2 separate regions of the Homo sapiens genome follow, and region 1 is linked to region 2. Evidence: fine-mapped expression QTL. A gene starts in region 2. The other region holds a variant in brackets. All regions are shown on one strand. Distances are from middle to middle. Region 1 has its middle 84 kb from the start of CASP4. Region 2 holds the start of CASP4 (caspase 4).

Evidence for each region.
Region 1: its variant is fine-mapped to the expression of CASP4 in whole blood (TOPMed, PIP above 0.99).

Annotation. Positions count from the first base shown.
Region 1 is chr11:104,883,248-104,886,179 of GRCh38, reverse strand. It overlaps the pseudogene CASP12. Among named protein-coding and RNA genes, the nearest start is that of CASP4, 84 kb to the left of the region's middle. The variant T/A (reference allele first, on the strand shown) is at 1,648.
Region 2 is chr11:104,967,082-104,969,943 of GRCh38, reverse strand. It overlaps CASP4 (caspase 4), which reads left to right and starts at 1,370. Exons shown (of 9, transcript NM_001225.4): 1 at 1,370-1,425. The coding sequence starts at 1,419. It overlaps LOC124902813 (a long non-coding RNA gene), which reads right to left. Exons shown (of 2, transcript XR_007062986.1): 1 at 1,784-2,862; 2 at 1,364-1,659. RefSeq lists an enhancer at 371-1,570.

The DNA.
Region 1 (2,932 bases), 84 kb after region 2:
ACAGTAGACATTAGTTATATTTACATCTTACCGATAATAGCCAGATTACTCATGTTCTTTTCTTCTACTTTCTCTAGGAAAATGAAGGCATTATGGTGTCTATGAATCTGCTATTAGAAAAGGTCAATTTTTGATTAAGAATATTTTTATACCAAACTGCTCAGCTGTCCACCTTTTCAAATACCAGGCTAAAATCAATCTCATATTTTTGCTAAATTAATGCTTAATAAATTTTTATTATAAAATTGTGCTTGTTTTCTAATTTTGTCATAAATTAAGTCATGCTTATAGGAGAAAAAATTAAGTATTAAAAATCATAAAAAATGAAGAAATAATCATCATCAACCTTTTTAAAACTATTCATAAAAACTCAAGTTTTTTATATAGCTTATTTATTTTGTATATCCAATTTTGTGTGCTTTTATTATATTGTTATAACATTACTACTAGTAATAAAACTATCCTAAATATAACTTTTAAGTTTATAATATTCGTCAGGTATATATAGGGCATACTATTTAACTTTCACCTGACTTTTAGATGTTGATTTCAATATTCATTTATTTTATTTTACTTTTTTTTTATTTCAATAAGTTTTGGGGAACAGATTGTGTTTGGTTACATGAATAAGTTCTTTTGTGGTGATTTATGGTGCACCCATCACCCGAGCAGTGTACACTGTATCTAATGTGTAGTCTTTTATCCCTCAACCCACTCCCACCCTTTCCCCTAAGTCCCCAGAGACAATTGTGTCATTCTTACGGTTTTGTGTCCCCACAGCTTAGCTCCACCTGCTGCTCTGTCTGTCCAGGTGCGAGCTGCAAGTTAGGCCTGATTCTTATCTGTTATTTTCTCTGAAGTCTCCTATTTATTTTCTTTCTTTCTTTCTTTCTTTCTTTCTTTCTTTCTTTCTTTCTTTCTTTCTTTCTTTCTCTTTCTTTTTCTTTCTTTCTTTCTCTCTTTCTTTCTTTCTTTCTTTTCTTTCTTTCTTCTTTCTTTTCTTTTTTTCTCTCTCTTTCTTTTTCTTTTTTTAAAATTTATTTTAAGTTCTGGGATACATGTGCTGAATGTGCAGGTTTGTTACATAGGTATGCATGTGCCATGGTGGTTTGCTGCACCCATCGACCCATCATCTAGGTTTTAAGCCCCGTGTGCATTAGGTATTTGTCCTAATGCCCTCCCCCAACTTAGCCCCCACCCCTGGACAGGCCCTGGTATGTGATGTTCCTCTCCCTGTGTCTATATGTTCTCATTGTTCAACTCCCCCTTATGAATGAGAATATATGGTGTTTGGTTTTCTGTTCCTGTGTTAGTTTGCTGAGGATGATGATTTCCAGCTTCATCCATGTCCCTGCAAAGGACATGAACTCATTCTTTTTATGACTACATAGTATTCCATGGTGTATATGTGCCACATTTTCTTCCAGTCTATCATTGATGGGCACTTAGGTTGATATGATTATGAATATGTTTAACTTTTACTTTTGTCTAGAAAGAGGTTTATATTCTTAGAATGTATTACTAAAAAGTAGAATTACTGGATCCATACACTTAAACTGTTTGATAAATTATTGCCAAAATTTTTTGCCAAATTATATGCATAGAAGAAATTCAAGATAATGACTGGTAGGTAGAGGAATTTTTTTT[T/A]AAAAAAATCATTACTGATATAATAGGTAAAAATAGTCAGTTTCATTGACATGTCTTTTGTTATCGACATTATTTGACATTCTAACCACTTTATTTGCTGTGTTTTAGTGAACTGTTAATTTATTTTTTAAATTTTATTTCAAATTTTATATGTGTTTTCCTTATCAATTTGTATAAATCCTTTATATATGACAGTGTATTAGCTCATATAACATTAGGTCATATAATATTTTTAGTTAGTTCTTTGATATTATATTTTCTGTATGATATGTGATGTGGAATACTCACATTTTCAGTAATAGAATCCATTTATATTTTCTTCTGTGTTTGTTTTTATATTTTCAAGCTTAAATATTGTATCACTACCTATAATTTCTTACAATTATATTAAAGATATATTTAAATATCTTATTCTCCTTTAAATTTTATGAATTCATTCTCTAAACAATATGATTTTGCAGTGAAATGTGACATGGGGATATTATTGATTTTTTCCAATGAATTACCAGTTGTCAATGATACACCACTTGAATCATATATATATAATCATATATATATATATATACACCAATTGTAACATTGTCTTTAATATTAATTTATAATGTGTTATGGAATGGGTGTCTTGGACGATATTTAAGAAAAATACTGGACATTGGTATCTACTTTAGAGAAACTTTTACTACGAGGGATTAAAACTCACTCAAACTAGCTTAAAGAAAAAGTTTCGACATAAGCATACAACAGGTAATCTCATATTCCTCCATTATAAAAAGCAAACCACAATTAGGTCTCTGGAGATATGGTCTAGAACATTGAAAATCAGGTAATCATTCTCTTTGATTAGCATCTTCATTGTGTAATGACTCCTTCTGAATCATAAATTTTCAGATTACTAATTATGGTACTTTTAATAAATTAGCTTATCTGACACCAGTTTCCAGGTATGAAGTGGGCGTGCTAGTATCTGACTCATATTGAGCAGGTATAATATTATGTGCATGTAGCACCTCCCTGTTGCACTGCCTGCCACACAGTGGGCAATTGTTTATGGTAGAGATAATTAGTGTTACATTCACCGATTCATCTTTCAGGACTTATGCTGTATTACATTGCTAATTACTGTTTGATCATCCTCTTTAGCCCTTTCTTGTTCTTACTGTCCTTAGTCACATACTGTGTGTGTTTCCAGGTAAATTTTATAATGACTGTATAAGTTTTCTGATAATTAAAATAGGGTTCTAATGGAATTTAAATGTGTACATTTGTTTATCTAGAGCTATGGTTT
Region 2 (2,862 bases):
TAATCTTTAAAGCTGTTGACCTTTGGATGGGATTTTTGTAGGGTCTTTTTTGTTGATGCTGTGTTATTGTTGTTTTATTTTTTTTTGTTTTTCTTCCAACATTCAGGCCCTTCCTCTGCAGGTCTGCTGCAGTGTGCTGAGGATCTACTCCAGACACTGTTCACCTATGTATCACCAATGGAGGCTGCAGAACAGCAAAGAGTGCTGCCTCCTCCTTCCTCCGGAAGCTTCTTCCCAGAGGATCACTGACCTGACGCCTGTTGGAACTCTCCTGTATGAGGTGTCTGGCAACCCCTGTTGAATGGTCTAACCCAGTCAGGAGGCCCAGGATCAGGAACTCACTTAAGGAAAGAGTCTGGCTATCCCTTAGCAGAGATGGTGCACTGGGCTGGGGGAATCCCCCTTGTCTGGATCGCTGATACTCTTCAGAGCCAGCAGGCAGGAAAGATTAAGTTGGCTGAACCTGAGACCGCAGCTGCCCCTCTCCGCAGGTGCTCTGTACCAGGGAAATGAGAGCTCTGTCTGTAAACTCTAGGTGGAGTTGCTGAAATTCCTGCAAGCATTTCTTGCCGGGAGAGGAGGGATGGATCCCGGTCCCACCTAAAGAAGCAGTCTGGCCATGATCTGCCACAGCGGCTGTGCTGCACTGTGAAGACTGCTGCCCAGTCCAATCTGCCCAGCCTCCCTAGCACTGGTAGGGAAAAACCGCTGACTAGAGCTGCAGTAATGGCAGTCGCCCCTCCCCTGGGGAACTCGGTCATCTCTGGCGTACTCCAGGCTGCTATGCTGGCTAGTGGGGATTCTAATCCAGCGGATCTAAGCTTGCAGGCTTCTGTGAGAATGGACCTGCTGCAAGGCCATTTTGCTCCCTGGCTTCAGCCCCCTTTCCATGGGAGTGGACGGGACTCCTGCCTCACTAGAGTTCCGGGAGCTGCTGGACTATGTAAAAACTCCTGCAGCTCAGTGCCTGCCCAAAAAGCTGGAAATATGAACTATTGGGTTAATTCTTATCAGGAAATGAAAAAGAGTTGTTAGATTAAACTTCTTCAGTCATTGTCGTTCTTTGTAATCAGAGAAAGAAAAACTGAGAGATCAGGAAGAGAAGAGACAGATGGATAGAAGAAGTTTGGGTGGCCACAGGAAACAAGAAAAGAAACAAGCTGAGGTGTCAACCCACAGGATAATATTTTGTCATTTTCATTTTTTTCCCCCAAGTCAGAAACTAAATTCCAGTAATTGGATGCCAATTTGCTGATGACAAGGCACTTCCTGATAATGAGTCTGGAATTCTGAGCAGCAGTTTCACAATCTGTAATTACACGTTTCCGCCCTTTGCAATAAGGAAATACATAGTTTACTTTCATTTTTGACTCTGAGGCTCTTTCCAACGCTGTAAAAAAGGACAGAGGCTGTTCCCTATGGCAGGTGAGTCCTTTTCTGACTAGGAGTTTGGGAGTAGGAACTTAGAAAACACTTGATTTATTGCTCTGAAATAAACACAAGAAAGGAAGTGAGCCGATAGCACACATGTTGAATTCCTTTTCTTACTGATTGTGTGTAGTTTGAATCATGGGACCTGGTGTTAGAGATATTGACGGAGGTCATATGTTTTCCAGATGTCTTTGAGCCAGAAAGAAGTTAATTCCTTTCTTTCAGCTTCTGGTAATCAAAGGGAGGGTAAAGAAAGCCAGAGGAAGTTATTTGTGTGAGACAATTCTAGAAGTTTCGAAATGCACTCTGAAATCTTTCTTTTGATTCCAAATTAATTGCCCAGATCACAAACCTTTTTCGCAGAATCAGATCTGAGAGCCTCTGAATTGTTATCTTCTTCGACATCTCTTATTGTGAATTACATTCTTGGTCTGTTTAAAGTGATTCAATTTTTTCCTCTTTCTCGTTGGTCCTGATACTGACTACTTTAATATAATATTTCATGGGTTAATATCACAGTTGTTTTGTTTTGCCGTTGTTATTGTTTTTAACTGGTATCCTTCCCTCCAGGACTTAACTCTCCAATCCATTCTGCACACAACTTTTAGGTCACCTGTCTTATACACAGAAGCTGAAAAAGCCTAAGGGATAGAGTTACTTAGGCAGCTAGTATTCCAGCAGGTCATAACGCTTCTTTGGCTTCATTCTCCTCACAGGAAAAGGAAGAAATTGGACTAGATCAGTGAATTCTAAACCTTATAACATATCGCAGCAATCTGTAGTCATATAAAAAAAGTCAGATGACTACCCCCTTCCTCACCGCGAATAGCTCAATCTTAAATACCCTGCAGGCATTTATTACCTTTGAAGATCGTCACATAATTCTTATGAAACTGACTTGACATAGGTTTGTTCTATTAGGAAAGTTGACCAGTTAGTTAACACTCTCTGCTTATCTGCTAGTGATCTATTAATGTAATTAACTTTGCTCAGGGACATACAGTGGCTCCCTATTGCCTTTTCTCTTTTTTACTATCTGAACTTTCAGACAATTTTTTCTACCTTTTGAAACATGTGTATCCAGTTTTTCCATTAATCTTTGTAAAGCATGATTTCAACTTCATAAAAAAATACTGTATTTACTTCACTCATATTACCTTGTTGTTGTTTCTTTACTCCTTTGATTCTCCCTATAGAACAATTCTCTCCGGGGTTTATGTCTAACTTCACAACATTTAACTTAAGCTCTGGAATCAAGGGATCATTAGATAAAGATAGGGTAAATTGAAAGCCACTAGTCAAAAACAAGTCGTGGTTTGATAATTATAAACAACCAAATGTAGACAGCTATTATTACCTTAAACTCTTGAGGAATTGTATCCTGTAATGTGTTTAAGCATTACATCACTTTGCCTGGAACCAAAACTGTGG